Linked DNA regions of Homo sapiens. The protein of the gene in region 1 interacts with the protein of each later gene in a pairwise test. Each region holds a gene or a part of one and is shown in the gene's direction. Other genes may lie near its edges.

Region 1 (7,026 bases):
TTTGCCCCAAGTCGTGAGGTGAGTGAGGGATAATGAAATCTATTATAGAACAATGACTATTAATATATAACTAAGTTGGCCTTGAGCAGCACCCTCTTGGGGAATCCCTGAAGGAACTTTTTTTGCCTTTATGGGTGCTGAGTGCACATAGTGATTTCAGTTACTGAAATTTGTTCAATCTTTAGCATGAAAATTGTTCATTCTAAGTTATTCCTATTTAGGAATAGCTTTACAGACATAGTCATGGAGAGAAAGGCAAAGTGAAACAGTTCTCTATTGTTCCATAAATATCTAAGGGATTTTTTTGTCTTTGAGGCAGTGTCTCACTTTGTAACTCATATCGGAGTGCAGTGGCCTGACCACGGTTCACTGCAGTCTCGACCTCCTGGGCTCAAGCAATTCCCCCACTTCAGCCTCCTGAGTAGCTGGGACTATAGGCGCCTTCTACCAAGCCTGGCTAACTTTTTTTTTTTTTTTTTTTTTTGAGACGGAGTCTCACTCTGTTGCCCAGGCTGGAGTGCAGTGGTGCAATCTCGGCTCACTGCAAGCTCCGCCTCCCAGGTTCATGCCATTCTCCTGCCTCAGCTTCCCAAGCAGCTGGGACTACAGGCACCCACCACCACACCTGGCTAATTTTTTTTTGTATTTTTAGTTGAGATGGGGGTTTCACCGTGTTAGCCAGGATGGTCTCGATCTCCTGACCTTGTGATCTGCCCGCCTCGGCCTCCCAAAGTGCTGGGATTACAGGCGTGAGCCACCACGCCTGGCCCTTTTTAATTTGTTGTAGAGATGGGGCTTCCTGTATTGCTCAGGCTGGTCTCAAACTAGTGGCCTCAAGCGATCCTCCCACCTCAGCCTCTCAAAGTTCTGAGATTATAAGCTTGAGCCATCGTGCCTGTCCTAGGGATTATTGACAAGACAAAAAACGAAAGGTGTTCATCTTTTGTAAGAAACATAGACCTCATTCCTTGATACCTATGGAATTTTCATGTTAGGTTGGCTATCTTATGAATCCTAGTTTGAATGCCCAGATGCTTTTTACATCTTTTTTGAACCATTCCCAAGTTTTGTGCTATAGTACTTCTCTTTCAGGTGAAAAATATGGCACAGATACCAAGATGATAAGAAATATCTGAAGTTTCCAAGCCTGTGTTATGGCTTAGCATTTTCTAAAAGAGTGCTGTCCAGTAGAAATATGATGTGAGCAGCCATATATGTAATTTACATTTCTTAGTAGCCATATGAAAAAGTATAAAGAAACAAGTGAAATATTAATAATTTTATTTAACCCCTTATTTCCAAAATATTAATACTATCATTTCAACATATAATCAATATTTAAAAAAAAATTTTAAACTAGGCATGGTGGCTCAGGCCTGTAATCCCAGCACTTTGGGAGGCTGAGGTGGGAGAATCACTTGAGCCCAGGATTTTGAAACCAGCCTGAGCAACAAAATGAGATCCTGTCACACACACACAAAAAATTAGCTGGGCATGGTGGCACCCACCTGTGGTCCCAGCTGCAGGCTCGCACCACTGAACTCCAGCCTGGGTGACAGAACAAGACTCTATCTCAAACAGAAAACAAACTGAGATACTTTTACAATTTTTTTGTATGAAGTCTTTGAAATCCAGTATGTATTTTACATTAACAGCCCATCTGAATTCACGCTAGCCATGTTTCAGATGCTCAGTTACCACGTATGGCTAGTACAGGCGATGTCCCAAATCCAAAATCCGAAATGCTCCAAAATCCAAAACTTCCTGAGCACTGACTTGATGCTACAAGTGGGAATTTCCACACAAAAGTACTTAACACAAACTTCATTTCATGCACAAAAATTTTAAAAATATAAAATTGTCTTCCAGGCTATGTGTGTAAGGTGTATATGAAACAAATTTTGTGCTTAGACTTGTGTCCCACCCCAAGATCTCACTATGTATATGTAAATATTCCAAAGCCCGAAAAAATATCTGAAATCAGAAACGCTTCTGGTCCCAAGCATTTTGGATAAGGGATACCCAACCATTTCAGACAGCTTAGTTTTAAAGCAGCTGAAATGTTATGGTGATTCCATAACCAAGTTTGTGAAACATTTTTCTTTGTTGTGGGACTTTGGAAGCTTTAATATGCCAATTTTCATTGTGACTATAGTTGGTGAGGGTGGATGAGTAGCACTTTATAAACTGTTTAGGTGGTGTGGCCTTTTTAGCCCTAGCACAACGCCTTACTCAATTCTTAACTCCAGCTCCCTAGAGCATTCACTAGATACGTTTCTGCAGAATATACTTTGGGAAACATGGTTCAATGAATCGCCTTCCTCTGCTTTTCCCTCCCATCCTGCCCCCTAGGGTAAACTAAAACCTGAAAATGTCCTCCCCTCTTCTGCCCACAACTACCTTTAAAAGTTTTCTTTAGTACAAGCTTTAGTACACAGTTTGGACAGTCTTTCCCACTGTCTTGTGTTAGAAGAGCACTAAATTATTCTCAGGGCTTGCGAGTCAGTCTTGATCTCAACTTATTAGCTGGCTGTGGTATCATCTGAAGTCAGTTTCAGTCCATCTAGACTGGTGAAACTAGGAGGAGAGGGAGAGAATGGTTTTCTCGAGAAAGCAAAGCAGCATCCCATAGCTAGGGCAAATGGGAAAAGAAGGAACACTCTCCACTTGGTGCCATGTAGTGCAAACGAGTTTCTAAATCAGCCCACTCTGTGGGTGGTCACTGATCACAAAATAAGTGACTCATCCTCTAAGAAGGGTGGTGACAGTTCTTGCTCCTTTATTCCTTCTTGGATGTGATATATAAAGTCAATGATTTGGGGAGAAGGTACATACACTGAATTCCTCAGTAGATACCATAGTGAGAGGGAGGCCCTCTGTGGAGGGGGCAAGTGTAGTGGGCTCTGAGGCTCAGATCTTTGGTTCCAAAGACAAAAGTATCTTCCTTTATCCCCATCCCCCCAATAAAAAAAAAAAGAAGAAAACAAAGACGGTGAAAAGCAAGGGCTTTTTATGATTAGTGTTAGTCAAGCAATTCAAACTTGGAGCATTTGGCCTCTGCAAATAATCATGTAAGATTAGAGTTGCTACTTCATGCCATTTTTGTTGTCGCTTATTTAAGAACAAGGATCAGTAGGGATGGTAATAAAATAATTTTTAAAAATGCAAAGAAGAGAAAAAGAATAAAGCTATGATTAAGATAGCTGGGTCTGTGCCAGCAGCCCCTTCCTCTGTCTTAGAGCTACCAATGCTATTCTCTGAGGAGTGCAGGCTTTAGTTTATTTCCTCTAGATAGAGCTTCTAGGTGATCAAGCACAGCTATTTCTCTCAAAGGAGGGTTAGTCACCCAAAGGTGAAACAGTTCTCTCCTCTCCTCTCATTCAGCCTGCCAAAACAACTTTGCCTTTTTTTGTGTGTGCTAGAAAAGTAATTAAGAAAAATAAATGCCATCACTTTTTCTTTAGTACTCTAAGTTTTCTCTCTTCCACCCCTAGATCAGTGGACTGTAATCTCTGGGTGTGGGGCCTAGGCACTGGTATTTCTGGAAGGTCCTCAGGGGATGCTGGTGCATAGGAAGGGTTGAGATGCACTGGCCTTACTCTTGCTGTGTGTAAGCCCAGTCCAGGCTAATACCTCTCCATGGACCCCTTCTTTTAGCTGCCTCTTTGCTCTTCATAAATGTCGTTCTCCTTTCTGCTGTGTCCTCTCTTCTCTAAATATCTGAATTCTGCTCAGTCTGATTCCCTACTTTAGAACCTTCCCTGTAATCCAGTCTCTTCTCACTTTCCTTCTGTGAGCCTGGCTGTCAAAGATGTGCCCTGGCACTTACTCCTTGTGCTGTGAGGGACTTGTGTAGGTCTTGCCTCCTAACTATAGAATAAGCTCTTCTTTAATGGTAGGTGCCAGTTTCCTCATTTTTGTAGCCTTTTTAGCCCTAGGGACAATGACTTACCAAGTTCTTGATTTCATGTATATTAAGTTTTAAGCAAAGTGAGAATTTAGCGTTATCAAAAAGTAACCTACATTCTTGGGACATTCTGAGCTCACAGTAGAAGGCAGGGACTGTTTAGAAACCTGGATATGCTAGATATCAAAACAGGAAATGGTGCTTCAAGCTCTCATGCAATTAAAATCATTTTTCTCTTTTTCTTTCTGCTAAGTTGTATGTAGCAGAGGCCAGTAGTAAATAAAATATTGTATTAAAAAAAACTTAAACTGAGGTCTGGTCTCTCAGAAGCTGATGGTCTACTGAGTTTTCTCTGGATGTGATTTTTGCTGGTCTTTGGTAATATCCTTTGCTTACTGAATTGAGTCACTTTTTTCTTATAGTTGGCTCATAGGCTATGTATGGGTATAGTGACCATATTTTCTGAGTTGCTGAAGGGACATATGGGTGGATAAACCTCAGTGTCCCTGTGAGAATGGTGGAATGCATTTGAAATTGGAGCTGCCATAGAAATTGGGGCCAGGGTGTGAAGCCAGCTCAGCTCTCTCAGCTCTGAGGAGCCTGATCTCTCATTGGTAAGATTCCCCCTTAGACATGGTATAAATAGTGCAAATACCATATTAGCTGCCATTTACTGACCCTCTACTGAATGTCAGATACTCTCTTGTAGGGGCTTTCTATGTATTCTCTTCTAATCCTTATTACGACTTCACATGGTAGACATTGTACAAATATGAAAACTAAGGCTTAAAAGTTGTAACTTTTAAAATACAGGTCCACATGTAGCAGTGGAGGTCATGTGTTTGGGAGAGAATCGAGTGTAAAAGTTGTAAAGGGTGGGTGTGCCCAAATTCTCATAAATGCTTTCTCTTGCACATCCCGTGCTCTCGGCACTGTTCAAAGTCTGGTGTTGCTTTGGGAAGTCTCAGAGCAGTAGTACCTATGGGTCATAATTCGCGGCGTCCTAGAGTTAGCCAGTGAGACAGAATGTCTCCTTGCTTTCCACCTGTGTGGCTGCTATACCTCCGGTTGTCTCTAGTGACAGTGCAAGGGGAAGCTCCTGTACAGTCAGAGCCATGCTGCTCTGAGGGACCCATATTAAATCCCTGGACACAGGGCCTGAGGTTTCTTTATTCAGCTGGGCTCAAAATAAACCTTCTCCCACATTTTGCATCCTCTCGTTATGCTTTTTCCTGGCCCCTTAGGCTTCTGACTGGGCCACTTACACAGCTTTCATGGTGAGAAGTTGTGATTTGGAAGAAGAGAAGCAAAGTCATTTCTGAGAATCAAACTTTTATTTATGGTATTGGGACCCTTAAGTTTGCTTGAGAAATGCAGAACTTTGGAGGCAAAATTGTAGGATGTGGCTCAAGGGTCTGAATCACTCAGTCCAGGTAAACAATGGTAGGAAGTAGCACCCTTTGGGCATTTAATACCTGCTCAATGTGTTGCCTTGCTCTTTCCCCATCCCAGGAGAAGACAATCACTGTCTTCAGTGGCCTGAGGAACTCGTGGGTAGGGAGGGTAAGGGATGAGTATAAAATGGGATTGAGCCTTTTATAAAAGGAAGAACAAAGTGCCTGGAGGTATTGTTCCTAGACCAAACTGAGGGTCAGGCTGCTATTTCTGGTGGCCCAATAATGAGATGCAGTTGAGGAGCTGAATGTTAATAGGTAAGACAATGGGGAAAATGTCCCCAGGGAATTTCAGAGAGCTTCACAGCAGCCCCCACACTACAGGCCCTGAGGCCTGTCAAGGAAAAATGGTTTTGTGGATCAGGTCCTGGACTCCAGTGCCCTGTGTCACAGCTGCTCCAGCTCCAGCTGTGGCTAAAAGGGGCCAAGATATAGCTTGAGCTGTTGCTTAAGAGGGTCCAAGCCCCAAACCTTGGTGGCTTCCACGTGCTGTTGGGTCTGTGGGTGCACAGAAGGCAAGAGTTTGGGAGCCTCCGCCTAGATTTCAGAGGATGTATGGAAATGCTTGGATGTCCAGAAGTCTGCTGCAAGGGGGAGCCGTTATGGATTGCATTGTATGCCTGGAAAAGCCACAGACACTCAGCGCCAGCCTGTGAAAGCAGCTGTGGGGGCTGTACCCTGCAGAACCACAGGGCCATGTGGAGTTGCTCAAGGCCTTAGGAGCCCACTCCTTGCATTAGTGTGGCCTAGATGTGAAACATAGAGCCAAAGGAGGTTATTTTGGAGCTTTAAGACTTAATGACTGCCCTGCTGGGTTTTAGACTTGCATGGGGCCTGTAGCCCCTTCATTTTGGCTGATTTCTCCCTTTTGGAATGGGTCTGTTTACCCAATGCCTGTAACCCCCATTGTATCTTGGAAGTAACTAACTTGTTTTTGATTTTACAGGCTCATAGGTGGAAGGGACTTGCCTTGTCTCAGATGAGACTTTGGACTTGGACTTTTGAGTTAATGCTGGAATGAGTTAAGACTTCGGGGGGACTGTTGGGAAGGCATGATTGGTTTTGAAATGTGAGAAGGACATGAGGTTTCGGAGGGCCCAGGGGCTGAATGACATGGTTTGGCTGTGTCCTTACCCAAATCTCATGTCAAATTGTAATCTCCACATGTTGAGGGGCAGGGAGGGACGTGATCAGGTCATGGGGGCAGTTTCTAATGGTTTAGCACCATCCCCCAGTGCTGTCTCATGAACGAGTTCTCATGACATCAGATGGTTTAAATGCATGTGGCAGTTCCCCGCTCCCACACGCTTCCCCGCTCCCGCCCTCCCCATCTGTCCCCCCTTCCCCTCCTCTGTCTCTCTGTCACCTCCTCCCCCTCCTCTCTCTCTGTCCCCCCTCCCTCTCCTCTGTCTCTCTCTCTGTCCCCCCTCCCCCTCCTCTGTCTCTCTGTCCCCCTCCTGTTTCTCTCTCACTGTCCTCTCTCTCTGTCTCTCACTCTCTCACTGTCTCTCACGCTCTCACTGTCTCTTGCTCTCTCTCTCTCTCGCTCTCACTGTCTCTCTCTCACTGTCTCTCGCTCTCTCACTGTCTCTCGCTCTGTCTCGCTCTCACTGTCTCGCTCTGTCTCGCTCTCACTGTCTCGCTCTGTGTCTCGCTCTCACTGTG
Region 2 (7,244 bases), on another chromosome or scaffold:
TACTATATCATTTGCTTATTATATCTGCATTGCCATTTATGTGGGATAAAGCTTGTTTACCCTTAAAGGTATTGTATGTGTGCCTTTTCTTCTCCCCTCACTCGTCTCTCGCACAGAACACTAGGCAGGGGTAGGAGGAACTGGGAGTGGGGGGACCACAGGGACAAATGGCTGTGTTCATTTCTCAGGGGCCAGGCCACCCACCCATCCCCCTCTTCTGGCCTGATAGCATGCCAGCATCTGTCCCAACCCTAGAAATGAGGATTTGGCCCCAGGTCCTTCCCTTCTCAGTATCCCTCTGGGAAAGAGGAAAGAGCAGGAAAAGGTAGAGAGGGACTTCAGCCCTGAGAAGGGGCGCAGTGGGTACCAAGGCAAGCTTCCTCAATCCAATCTTCCCCTCCCCCTGACACAAGTCCCTGGCCACTGCTGCTGGAGACTTGATTGGAAACTGCTTGCTAAGGTTATGATGGGAGGGTGGGGCATTGTGCCTATAGGGACAACCCAGGCAGACTCCTAGGACTATTTTATGGACATGTTGTACACAATCCTGGTTCTGGTCCTCGTCAACACTTTAGGGCTGTACACCTCAGCCATTTGAAACGGAGAGGTGAGGAGACTGGAAAAATAAAACCAACTGGAAAGTTGATTCTGTACTATGTGCCTATATTGTGGTAAAGGAAATTTGTTTTGTGTGGTTGTCACTGGTGGGTAGAGATAGACAAAATTACCTTTAACCCAGACTTTTTCTCATTCTCCTTGCCTAGAGACCTCCCCACCCTCCAACATACACGTATACAATCTCATTCCCTAGTTCTTTGCATCTATATGTTCCTCTCTCGTGTTTTTTTACTTTTTAGAGATGGGGGTCTTGCTTTGTCACCCAGGGTGGAGTGCAGTAGTGCAATCATAGCTCAATGCAGCCTCAAACTCCTCGAGGAATCCTCTTGCCTCAACCTCCTGAGTAGCTGGATTACAGATGTGGGCCACCATGCCTGGCTTCTCATGGTCTTTCTGATTTACCCAGACCTTATCCTAGTGACTGTGTTTGTTTATTTATGAGATAGAGTCTTGCTCTGTCATCCAGCCTGGAGTGCAGTGGTGCGATCTCGACTCACTGCAACTACCTCCTCCCAGGTTCAAGCGATCCTTCTGCCTCAGCCTCCTGAATAGTTGGGATCACAGGCTCCCGCCACCATGCCCAGCTAATTTTTAGTAGAGATGGGGTTTTGCCATGTTGGCCAGGCTGGTCTCGAACTTCTGGCCTCAAGTGATCCACCCGTGCCTCTGCCTTCCAAAGTTCTGGGATTACAGGTGTGAGCCACCATGCCCGACCCTAGTGGCCGGTTTAAAATGAAATGTGAAAAGGGGTTTTATTGCCCACCTTTCACTGGCTGGTTGGGAATTTTTTTTTTTTTTTGAGACAAGAGTTTCGCTCTTGTCGCCCAGGCTGGAGTGCAATGGCGCGAACTTGGCTCACTCCAACCTCCGTCTCCCAGATTCAAGCAATTCTCCTGCCTCAGCCTCCCAAGTAGCTGGAATTACAGGTGCCTCCCACCATGCCTGGCTTTTTTTTTTTTTTTTTTTTTTTGAGATGTTGTCTCACCTTGTCACCCAGGCTGGAGTGCAGTGGCGCGATCTCGGCTCACTGTAAGCTCTGCCTCCTGTGTTCACGCTATTCACCTGCCTCAGCCTCCCGAGTAGCTGGGACTGCAGGCGCCTGCCACCACTCCTGGCTAATTTTTTTTGTATTTTTAGTAGAGACGGGGTTTCACTGTGTTAGTCAGGATGGTCTCGATCTCCTGACCTCGTGATCCTTGGCCTCCCAAAGTGCTGGGATTACAGGCATGAGCCACCGTGCCCAGCCTAATTTTTTGTATCTTTAGTAGAGATGGGTTTTCACCATGTTGGCCACGCTGGTCTCGAACCCCTAACCTCAGGTGATCCAACCCCCCACTTGGCCTCCCAAACTGCTGGGATAATAGGCGTGAGCCACCACACCCGGCCTGGTGGGAATTTTTTTTTTTTTTTTGAGACAGAGTCTCTCAATCTGTCGCCCAGGCTGGAGTGCAGTGGCGTGATCTCGGCTCACTGCAAGGTCCGCCGCCCAGGTTCAAGCGATTCTCCTGCCTCAGCCTCCCAAGTAGCTGGGACTACAGGCGCCCGGAGTAGCTGGGATTACAGCCATCACGTCTGGCTAATTTTTGTATTTTTAGTAGAGACGGGGTTTCACCATCTTGGCCAGGCTGGTCTTGAACTCCTGACCTCGTGATCCACCCGACTCGGCCTCCTAAAGTGCTGGGATCACAGGCGTTAGCCACCGCGCCCAGCCCAACACCTTTTCATTTATCTGTACAGCACATATTTCCTGAGGGCATCCTGTATACTAGGTCCTGAGGGCATCCTGTATACTACAGATGGTTCCCAGCATTGGAGTTTTCAACTTTACATTGGTGCGAAAGCAGATCTGCATTCAGTGGAAACTGTATTTCTCTTACAATGCTGGGCAGTGTCAGCAAGCCACAGCTTCCAGTCAGCCACACATTTTCAACTTACAGTATTTTCAACCTATGATGGGTTTATCAGGATATAACTCCATCACAAGTCAAGGAGCATCTGTAAACAGTAAACAGAAACCCAGGCACCGTGTTTGTGCTTAGGGAGCTTGCGATCTAGTAGGGGAAGATTGTCAATAAAACAATCACAAATATATTGGCTGGGTGCGGTGTCTCACGCCTGTAATCCTAGCGCTTTGGGAGGCCAAGGCGGTTGGATCGCTTGAGGTTAGGAGTTCGAGAGCAGCCTGGCCAACATGGTGAAACCCTGTCTCCACTAAAAATAAAAATTAGCCGGGTGTGGTGGCAAGCGCCAGTAATCCCAGCTACTTGGGAAGCTGAGGCAGGAGAATCGCTTGAACCTGGGAGGTGTAGGCTGTAGTGAGCCAAGATCGCACCACTGCACTCCAGCCTGGGTGACACAGTGAGACCCTGTCTCAAAAATAAAAAAAAAGCATATATATGTAAAGCAGATATATATATATGTGTGTGTGTGTGTGTGTGCGTGTGTATCTATATCTATCTATCTATCTAATTGCCACCGTGCCAAGTGATTCAAAGGAAGGTAGCTGATGTTATGAGAACATATAAACGGGTGGGGCGTGGGAGAAGGGGCTGAGAACACACTGGAGGGGAATGCAGAGACCACCTGGATGTCTGCTGCAATTAAACTGACAAAGTATGACAATTTGGGTTACAGCGGGAGCATGGCAGCTGGAGAAATGGACTGACTTGAGATGTCCCAGATGTTCAGATCTCCTTTTTCTCTCAGGGCACAGGCAAAAGGCAAACCCAAAGAGGTGACTTTGAGCCAGGAGGACCCCTTACTTTGATCTTAACAGAAACGGGGGTTTCCTCTGGTGCGTTATGTGTATCATTTATTGAACCACTACTATGTACTAGGACCGACCTTGTCACATTTAAAGTTCACAACTCTGGCCTGGCGCGGTGGCTCATGCCTGTAATCCCAGCACTTTGGGAGGCCGAGGCGGGCGGATCACGAAGTCAGGAGATCGAGACCATCCTGGCTAAGACGGTGAAACTCCGTCTCTACTAAAAATACAAAAAATTAGCCGGGCGTGGTGGCGAGAGCCTGTAGTCTCAGCTACTCAGGAGGCTGAGGCAGGAGAATCGCTTGAACCCAGGTTGCGGAGGTTACAGTGAGCCAAGATCGTGCCATTGCACTCCAGCCTAGGCGACAGAGTGAGACTCCGTCTCAAAAACAAAACAAAACAAAAAAAAAAGAAAAAAAAAGTTCACAACTCTGAGGTAGGTGTAATTATCCCCATTTCATGATGAGTCTCATAAAGTTTAGGTGATGTGCCCAGAATCACACAGGGTTGGAATCAGGATTAGGGCCCTGATCGGGCTGCATTCAAAGACCAGTTTGCTTCAATACATCATACTACGGTCCAAGACTTCTGCTATCCTGAACCCACTGTTCCTTCCTCTAGTCTAGTTTTCAAATTCGCAGGGACAAATATGGCCCTGAAGGCTCCATGAGCAGACGAGAAGGCTGGACTTCGCAACTGGGTCACCTTAGATCCGGAACTAGAGAATGACACCGTTGTTTCCGGGAGGAAAAAGAAAAAGCGCTTGACCCGGAAGCTGCGTGTCCCATCCCCGCGCCTGCTTCTCTGACTGGGGTGAGGCCGCAGCGGACTGCCCTTTCCCAAGATGGCGTCGAAGATAGGTTCGAGACGGTGGATGTTGCAGCTGATCATGCAGTTGGGTTCGGTGCTGCTCACACGCTGCCCCTTTTGGGGCTGCTTCAGCCAGCTCATGCTGTACGCTGAGAGGGCTGAGGCACGCCGGTGAGCAGGCCTACGCAGCCGCTAAACGCGGCAGGGGGCGGTGATGTGGGCAAGAAATTGGGGGCTAGAAGTCGGGACCCTTGAACTGGGAGGAATTGGGACCTCCCTGGGAGGGGTTCTGGTCTGGGTGTCGGACCAAATCTGGTAGGGCGGTCCTGCCCATGGGAGGGGAGTCTGGTTTGGGGGAGCAGTGGAGCCTGTGGGAACTCAAGGGGTCTCAAGCTTCTTCCCCCACCGCTTCATTCTGTCCTCGTTGCTTCCCCACTCCCGGCTCGCAGGAAGCCCGACATCCCAGTGCCTTACCTGTATTTCGACATGGGGGCAGCCGTGCTGTGCGCTAGTTTCATGTCCTTTGGCGTGAAGCGGCGCTGGTTCGCGCTGGGGGCCGCACTCCAATTGGCCATTAGCACCTACGCCGCCTACATCGGGGGCTACGTCCACTACGGGGACTGGCTGAAGGTGAGCGCCTCGGCCCCAAAAGGGTCTTCCCTCTGGGTGACGGGGAATCAGAGGCCAATGCCCAGGGCTGTTGGTGGGCGATGAATGGTGCTGGCCAGCTGCACAGTGTGAAGCCTGGGAGGTTCGAACCCCTTGGCTTATGGAGATTACAGAGCGCAGAAATGGATCTTAGAGACCACACAAACTTCCTCTTCAAAGTGTGGAAACTGAGGTCTAGAGATGGGAAACAGACTTTCCCAAAGCCACAATACAGGATACTGGTGGGACCAGAACCCCGGTCACCTGGTTCCCAGAATCTTTTAAACTGTTAGTTTAGTAATCTCAGACTCATGGGGTACAAAGGACCTTGGAGAGTACCTAGTTTTCATAAAATAAATTTTATGAAAATGTAATTACTGTTAGTATAGCATTTAAGCCAGAACCTGTGCCAGGCCCTGCAGGCTGGAGATAAGGTTGGACAAAGGCACTGTCCTTGAGGAAGAGACTGTCAGACCCTTAGGGGAGGAAGATGTGTGAACAGCTACAGGGCAGCAAGATCAATGTTTTTGTGGCATAGATCCCATGCCATGTAGAATAAAGAACACCAAGATTAGAGTCTACAGATCTGAGAGTGGGGAAGGGAGAAACACATTGTGTCTGGGTTCTGCCACTTACTGGCAGGTAGGACCTGCCAGTTTTCTTTTTTGTTGTTGTTTTTTGAAACAGAGTCTCTCTCCGTCGCCCAGGCTGGAGTGCAGTGACGCTGTCTCAACTCACTGCAACCTCCGCCTTCCAGGTTCAAACGATTCTCCTGCCTCAGTCTCCCAAGTAGTTGGGATTACAGGCGCCCTTCCCCACGCCCGACTAATTTTTGTATTTTCAGTAGACAGGGTTTCCTCATGTTGGCCAGGCTAGTCTCAAACTCCTGACCTCAGGGTGATCCACCTGCCTCGGCCTCCCAAAGTGCTGGGATTACAGGCGTGAGCCACTGCGCCTGGCCAGACCTGACAGTTTTCTTAACCCTCTGGGCCTCAGTTTCTACTTCTATATATATATAAAAAGAATGATCTGTCTCTGTTGCACCTGCCCACCAAGCTTGGAAATGTAAGAGGGTTCATCAGATGGAATGGGATGTGTAGAGAGGGGTGGTTCTACACTCTGGGAAGCCAGGAGAGATGTGGCGGCTGCAGTTCTTGACTGGGGTCCCCTTACCCCGGCCTAGGTCCGTATGTACTCGCGCACAGTTGCCATCATCGGCGGCTTTCTTGTGTTGGCCAGCGGTGCTGGGGAGCTGTACCGCCGGAAACCTCGCAGCCGCTCCCTGCAGTCCACCGGCCAGGTGTTCCTGGGTATCTACCTCATCTGTGTGGTATGTTGGGGGACTGTTGGTTGGAGGTGCCTGGCTGGGAGTGAACTGTGAGTCTAGGCATGGCAGAACCCCAGGAAGGTAGACACAGAACGAGGCCCTGAGTGCAGTTCCTGATGGCCCAGTTCCCTGGGAATTGCCCTGGCCAGCTTCTAGGCCTCAGGGGCCCTCCAAATGCCTGTTGAGAGGCCCTTCCTCCAACAGTGTTGCCACGAGGTAGACTGGCCATTAAATTTCAACCCTGAGAGCCAGGAGAACAAGATGGGGTGATTCTCTCATGGCTCCAGCCCCCAAAGGACTAGAAGGGGATAAAGGAGAGGTTTGGTGGGGGTCAGGCCCCAGCTGGGACTCTGCCCCCTAGAGCTGATGAGAGCTCTAGGGTAGCCACTTATGGTTCTCCCTGGTGCTAGGGGAGGCCAGGGTGACTGGAGACATGGACAGGCGCCAGGCCATTAGGTCTTATCTTAATTACCGAGTATATCTCTGTACAGCTCTCTGTGTGGGCTCCCATATTCAGAGGTGGGAGCTCTAGTCTGACTGTGGAAATACACTTCCTTCATAGCCCCTAGGGTGAGGGGAGACATGGGCCCTAATCTCCTGGGGCTCCATAGTCCGAGGGGGAGACAAAGGCCCTACTTTCAGAGGTTCCCCAGTCCAAGAGGGGAGTCAGAAGCCCATCTGCAGGGACTCATTTGCAGGTGCCATCTCAGGGGTGGTTTACCCCAGACAGGCTTCTGAGCCTGTTGGAGAGTCTTAGAGGATGTTATGTCTCCAGGCCTACTCACTGCAGCACAGCAAGGAGGACCGGCTGGCGTATCTGAACCATCTCCCAGGAGGGGAGCTGATGATCCAGCTGTTCTTCGTGCTGTATGGCATCCTGGCCCTGGCCTTTCTGTCAGGCTACTACGTGACCCTCGCTGCCCAGATCCTGGCTGTACTGCTGCCCCCTGTCATGCTGCTCATTGATGGCAATGTTGCTTACTGGCACAACACGCGGCGTGTTGAGTTCTGGAACCAGATGAAGCTCCTTGGAGAGAGTGTGGGCATCTTCGGAACTGCTGTCATCCTGGCCAC
Region 3 (6,972 bases), on another chromosome or scaffold:
TTTTTAAAACTTTATTACAATATGTCATTCATTTTAGACATTTTGCTGATTCACAACCACCACGTTTTAATAACTGAGGCCATCATATTCTGACAAGAGAAATGATTAATCTGGAGTCTAATGTTATGGGAAATCTCACTCATGGTAAGGAAATTTATTTTGAATCTAGCAAATAGTTTGAGAGCACACAAAGGGTTATAACACAGATGTGGTCACCAGATGTTCTCCAGCTCTACTGCAGAACCAGACTAAGTAGCAACATGATGGATTTAGGTTATGTAAAGGAAAAGACTCCCGTCTTATAAAACATTGAAATGAGAAGCTAAATCTCCTGGCCTCGAGTTTTGTTTTGGCTTGTTTTAAATATAGAGATGTTTTACATGTTTGGAATGGATTAATTATAGTCCTGCCTGAGGAAAATGGTAGAGATTTCATAAGAAGGCTTTCGGCTTTAATAGTTTCTAACAGACAATAATAGACACACAATATTGGGCTGACAGTATCTTCAGGAAGCTTTGAACGAGTTACCTAACACTCAGCCAAAGCCTCTTGCATGCCTTGTTTCTATGACTCTTGACAAGTCTGTAAACATCAACTAAGGAGAGCATGGACCCTTTTGGCTATTAAACTGGCCTTGTAATGACAGAGTTGCTGCTGTTTAAGATAACTGCTCTCAGCTACATTTAGTTGGCACTACATAGGATCTCACACATAATAGACTTAAATTCCCCCAATTTTAGCAAAACTGCCCAGGTAAGAGTTTATAATCTGGAGAGGGAGGAGTATCTAATCTATGAACAATTATTTGTTAAAGAATATGCTGAATATCTGAACCCACATGGGCTTTAAAGTTTGAAGATGCTTCGTATCTTCAAAATAAACCCAAGATTTTGACTGGGCATGGTGGCTCATGCCTGTAATCCCAGCACTTTTTGGGGCCGAGGCAGGTGGATTACCTGAGGTCAGGAGTTCGAGACCAGCCTGGCCAACATGGTGAAATCCCGTCTGTACTAAAAATATAAAAACTAGCCAGGCGTGGTAGTGGGTGCCTATAATCCCAGCTACTTGGGAGGCTGAGGCAGGAGAACTGCTTGAATCCAGGAGGCGGAGGTTGCAGAGCCGACACGGTGCCACTGCACTCCAGCCTCGGCAGCAGAGTGAGACTCCGTCTCAAAAAACAAACAAACAAAACAAAAAAACAACCACCACCAGGATTTTTATTAGTATTAGATTTTTAAATGAATTGTTAGTCATTGTGGCATTATAAAGACGCAGCCCAGTGTTCATAACTTTTTAAAGAAATCACCCACAGACTGATTCTTTTGTGGATCAGATATGTTGTACCTCAATGACCTTGGGCTAAGCAAGTAAATCTCACATACAATCCTGTTTTGGAAGGTCCCCTCGGCGTTGGGGAAAAGTGGGAGGACTTGGAAAGCTAACAGGCAAAGAGAGGGACGGGATATTTCCATTATTCCTTCATCAGAGCAAATCACCAATATATTCATTGAAAGAGAAAGTTCATGGGCATGCTATGGAAATTAACGTAGAAATTACTATGTAATAGAAAATATAGGCATTTTTAGAGTCACCATGATTTGAGTCTTATTGAGTTACATTTTTTGAGGGGGTTAAATTATATGTAGAAACGATAACAATTGGGAAAGCTCTACACATGTCTCAGAGTCCTCTTCTATGTACATAACGGAGTAGTTTATTAAAGATCTGTGGCATAGTAATAGCATTTCCCCAAACCTCTTCATCTTTATTCAAGGATCTTCAAAGTCTGCCCCCACCAAGCACAGCTCAAGGCTCTCAATGACTCTTTAAAAGCTTCCAAGTGGCCGGGCGTGGTGGCTCACACCCGTAATCCTACCACTTTGGGAGGCCGAGTGGGGTGGATCACCTGAGGTCAGGAGTTCGAGATCAGACTGGCCAATATGGTGAAACCCCGTCTCTACTAAAAATACAAAAATTAGCCCGACCCAGTGGCACGCGCCTATAATCCCAGCTACTCGGGAGGCTGAGGCAGGAGAATCGCTTGAACCCGCGAGGTGGAGGTTGCAGTGAGCCGAGATCGCGCCACTGCACTCCAGCCTGGGCGACACAGAGAGACTCCATCTCCAAAAACAAAACAAAACAAAACAAAACAAAAAAACAAAAAACCCCACAAAAGCTGCCAAGCTCCATTTCGGCTGGAGGTCAAAGAAGAGTTCAAGGGAAAAGATGAAAAAAATGGCTTCTCTCCATCTGTGGGCATGTCTGTAATTGCCACCCCATCTCTGCATGTCTCCTCCCAGGAACACTAAAGCACCATCTTCTAGGCGTGGAGACATCTGACAATGGAAGTCTAGAAAGCTTCCTAAACCACCTGCTCTGGACACAGCTGCCTTCAAAGACGGACTGCAAATGGATGCTGGCCGGTAGCTTCAGTTACCAGTGATTACTTGGTGTGAATCTACCTGTGCTATTACCTTAGCAAATTTTAAGTCTTTAGTTTGGGCATTAAATGTTTCAGTTACTTGTACATACTTCACATCCTTTTAATGTTTTCATGGACTCGTACTGTTTACTGTTTCTCTCACTACTTCAGTCTAGCAATGCAAGGAACATTTAAAGTTTGCCTGGGTTTGGGGTTTTTTGGCTTTTTTATTCTTGATTCTGCTACTAGTTGTGCGACCTTGGGCAAATTTGTTTCAGTTCCCTCATCTGTAAAATGGGTAATAATAATAATTGGCTCATAAGGTTGTCCTGAAGATTGAATAACTTGAGATATGTTCAGTGCGTAGAACAGTGTCTGGCACATAGGCAAAAGCAATCACAAATGTGGGCAATTATAATTGCTGAGCACCTAACTTTTCCCAGGTATTGTGCTACTCAGTCTGTCCCCGAATCTACGTCACACAAAATATCTTGGCATTGAGAAATAATTTTGATAGAATAAAATGAATCCTTAATTCTTCTTGATTAACTTGGAAATGGCCAAGATGCACACCTGGACTTTCGGTCTCACACAAGAGTTGTTTCATTACCTCCCTATTTTAACAGTGAGCGTCGAGCTACCAGCAGCTAAAAAGGAAATGGAGATTTCGTCTTTGCTCCCAAAGAACTATTTAAAGCTTTAGTAGTTGTGTCATCTGTAATAAAAGACGTAATGCTGACTCAAGGAGTTAATGAGAAATAAGACAACGCCTTCCAGTGGACAAGTAGCCAATAAATGTTAGTTTTTCTTCGTACCAGGAATCCAAACATTCCAGGTATGAAGCCAGATTAGGTGGCTTCACGACTGTGGACTCGCAGTCTGCCCTTGAGGAATTTCTTATTGAAGAAGAAAAAGAGGGGGGACACGGGGCCCAGACCCCCAGCACCCGGCTTTCGAGCAGGCTCCACGGGTCCGGGTCCGGGTCCGTTTTCCCTTTCGCCAGCTGGGGCCCCGTTCGAACCTCTCCCAACTACAACGCGGAGGCTCCGACGCCCCGGCCCCAGCTTTGTTTTGCCTCCGGGAGCCGCGCGCCACCGGGGACCCGCGGGGAGCCGTTCTCACTCCGAAGCTGTCTGCTCACCTGCAAATCGGAGACAGCGCCCTTTCACTTACGATCCTTATAAAAGACGCTTATAAAACATTTTATTCAGTGTTACATTAAAAAGACGTTTATGAAAGCAATTTATAAAGCCCTAGTGGGAGACCGAGATTGGTGTTAATGTAACTGGAGTAAGGGCTGCTCCGATTGCTGCAGAAATTCGACATTAGCCTTCACCGCACCTGCGGAGCAGCGGGAGCCAGGTGAGCAGCAATTTCCCCTCAGGGACTTCCTCCGCGTTCTCCGCATTTTCTGTCGGCGGAACTGAATCCCAACAGTAGAAAAACGTGGCTCCGCCCATCACCTTTCCTTTAAAGGACGCGGGGTGAAGCCCCGCCCACTACGGAGAGCGAAGGGGACTCGCCGCAGATCCGCTGTACTTGCGTCCGCTACAGTATGTCAATCGCTTGCCCCAGCACAGGTAATGCTAAATATGAGGCGTGCGGAGCGGTGCGCGGACCGGCATCGGGAGGGCGTGGCCTTAGGGGGCGCCCCTGTGGAGGAGGCACCCGGAAGGTCAGGGCTACCCCGTCCCGCCGGTACCGAGGGCGGAGAGGCTCCGCAGGTCCTGCTGCGGAGTCGGAGGGTTCTGCCGGGCTGTAAAGCCATTTTCAGCGAGGCCGCTGCACGAACTTCCGAGGGATGTTAGACCTAGAGTTGCCGCCAGCCCCACTGAGCTTTTCTAGTTCCGTCCCGACATGCGCGCCCTCGTTTGTGCGCACGCACGCACGCAGTACGTCGCTACGTCCCGTCTCTAGCCCTGGCGCTCCGCCGGTCCCGTTCTGCAGGTGGGCGTCGCCGCCGACTTACCAACAACCGGGTCGGGGGCTCCCGGAAGTGCTCTTGCGGCTTACTGCCTGGCACAGGTGGGGCAGAGCGAGCCAGGCGAAGGGCGCCTGCGCAGGACATGCTGGACAAATGCGTTGTTCTTGCTGCCTGCTGTTGCGGGAGGAGGCCTTATGGGGGAAGGTCGCGAAGTGACTGGGATTTTTTTTCTCATTTGTCATTTAGTGGGCTCCGTGGCTTAAGACTTGAACCAAGTAAACGAAGTTCTCTTACTGAGAAGTCTCAGTTTCAAGTACGTGTTGTGAAAGGCCTAAGTCTTAGAAAAGTAGAGGATGGAGAGAAGAATCTGAAAATCGACTACTATTCATTCTGTCAGGCACAACACAGTAACGAATAAGTCCATTTTGTTCCTGCTTCGTAGAGTTTACGGTCTAGTGATGGAGAACAGCAGTGCTAAGATCATCACAAAACTGTAATTGTAATGAATGTTTTAAAGGAAAGGTCAACTGGACTGTAGAAGCATTCAGTGTTAAGCTCAGTAAATTGGGGGAGGGATGGGAGAACTGGCTTAGTTTGGAAGGTAATCAGAAGAATGCGCTAAGGATCTGGCGTTTCCTAAACCAAGGACGAGAGTACTGTATTTCAAAAACCGAATGGCCAGTGTGGCCTAGGCATAAAGAAGAAACTGGAGAGGTGGGAAGGGCCTTTTGGCCTGGCGAAGGTGTAGATCTTTAATCTCGGGGCAGTTTTATTTAAGGTGAGGAAGGTCCTGGGTGTAGTGACCGCAGTGCAGTGGGAACTGGTTGCCAGGGCTCAAGCCGAGTTAGGAGACTGGCAGGAATCCAAACGAGGTGGTCGATGTTTTAAACTGACGGTGGTGACAGTGGATACGGAGAGGACTGGATGGATTCGAGTGGGGTTTAGGAAATGAAGTCGATGAGGCTTGGTGTTGGGTTGACTGGGAAAGTGGAGGCGTCAAAGGTGTCTTGGAGGTGACTGGAGGTTGTGGATGGGTAGTGATCCCATCACTAGAGTTCTGGAAGAAGACTAACATAGGATTAACATAGGAGAATAAGTTAAAAAAAAATTTTTTTTGAGAGTCTCACCCTGTTGCCTAGGCTGGATGCTTAGGCTGGAGTGCGGTGCACGATCTCAGCTCATTGCAACCTCTGCTTCCCGGGTTCAAGTGATTCTCCTGCCTCAGCCTCCCAAGTAGCTGGGAATACAGGCTCACGCCACCAGGCCCGGCTAGTTTTTTTGTATTTTTAGTAGAGATGGGGTTTCACCATGTCGGCCAGGCTGGTCTTGAACTTCTGACCTCAAGTGATCTGCCTTCCTCAGCCTCCCCAAAGTGCTGGGATTACAGGCGTGAGCCACCGTGCCCGGCCGTAAGTCCAGTTTTTAATACAGAGTCTTTAGCTCTGGGTTTAAAAGCTTTTTAAAACATATGGTTATTATTTCAATTTAATAGCTAAAGAAATAAGGTTAAATAGTTGGCCAAAGATATAATGTTGGCTTTTTCCAGTGTTCTAAATGGGAGTTCTAGCACGTAAACAGCTCAGCCTCATTATGGAGAGTACACTTTGTGCTCCCTATGGAAGAGCAAAACCAGAGCCAAGGGAGGGGAGCATGAAGGCCCAGTAACGGTAGCGCAGGCCCTCTGGGATTAAGGCTGCACTGCTCAGGCCAGAATGGGGCAACTGGGACAGTTTGCAGGCAGAAGCAAGGACTTTATGAAACTTCTTTGGAAGGTGTAAAAGAGTTCTTAGAGTCATGAGAATTGGCAAAATTAATTTCACAAATATTTAGTCCGCTAGAATCTATGCAACTTTGATCCAATCTCCCAGGAAAGAACAGATAACAGTATGAGCTTGTGAATATCAGCTGTATGAGAAAAGCAGTGAGTGAACAAATAATAGAAGTTATTTTCGTCTCTTCAGTCCACATGATTTCAAATGCATGCAAGCAATTTTTTATAGGACGAGAATGCCCACCCACCCACCCCTCATATCTACTAAACCACATATTTAAATCATGTTCCAGGAAGTTTCCCTGCAAATATTTTATCAGTACTTCCGGTAGAATGCAAAATAATGAATTATACAGGGAATACAGCTGTCCTTTGGAGCAGTAATAATTGTCTTTTTTTTGGTACAAGAATGTTCACAGCAGCTATTCATAAGAGCCAAAAATAAATAAATAAATAAAGGGAACAGCCTAGGTGTTCATTAACGAAAACTAGATTTAAAAACTGCGATATATTCATATACTTGGAGGACACTTCTTAGAAATAAAAAGGAACAAGGTAATGATCCGTACAACGTGAATGAATCTCGAAACATGCTGAGATGTCTTACAACAAAGAGTAGATATTGTTTGGTTCCATTTATATGAAGTCTTAGGACAGACTGATGGGAAAAAATCAGAACAATAGTTGCCTCTTGGGGATGGAGATTGACTTGGAAATGGCAAGAGGGAACTTCCTGGGATAATGGTGATGTTCTGTCGATAGGAGTTTTGGTTACAAAGGTATATGCACTTGTCAAAACTCAGATAAAGTCTGAGTAATCATCGAATTAAAAATGGATATCATACTATAAAGTTA

The links. Proteins that work in one complex are often made in the same cells at the same time.
Region 2: the proteins of TMEM243 (region 1) and TMEM101 interact in binary tests that used the Homo sapiens proteins (3 or more experiments, as listed by UniProt).
Region 3: the proteins of TMEM243 (region 1) and MTIF3 interact in binary tests that used the Homo sapiens proteins (3 or more experiments, as listed by UniProt).

The regions. Positions count from the first base shown.
Region 1 is NC_000007.14:87,209,732-87,216,757, reverse strand, and holds part of TMEM243 (transmembrane protein 243), read left to right. Parts: intron 1-7,026.
Region 2 is NC_000017.11:44,011,938-44,019,181, reverse strand, and holds the start of TMEM101 (transmembrane protein 101), read left to right. Parts: upstream 1-4,218; 5' UTR 4,219-4,229; coding exon 4,230-4,366; intron 4,367-4,644; coding exon 4,645-4,825; intron 4,826-6,026; coding exon 6,027-6,173; intron 6,174-6,945; coding exon 6,946-7,244. UniProt on the Homo sapiens protein: May activate NF-kappa-B signaling pathways.
Region 3 is NC_000013.11:27,447,539-27,454,510, reverse strand, and holds the start of MTIF3 (translation initiation factor IF-3, mitochondrial), read left to right. Parts: upstream 1-3,946; 5' UTR 3,947-4,002; exon of another isoform or gene 4,003-4,659; intron 4,660-6,972. UniProt on the Homo sapiens protein: IF-3 binds to the 28S ribosomal subunit and shifts the equilibrium between 55S ribosomes and their 39S and 28S subunits in favor of the free subunits, thus enhancing the availability of 28S subunits on which protein synthesis initiation begins.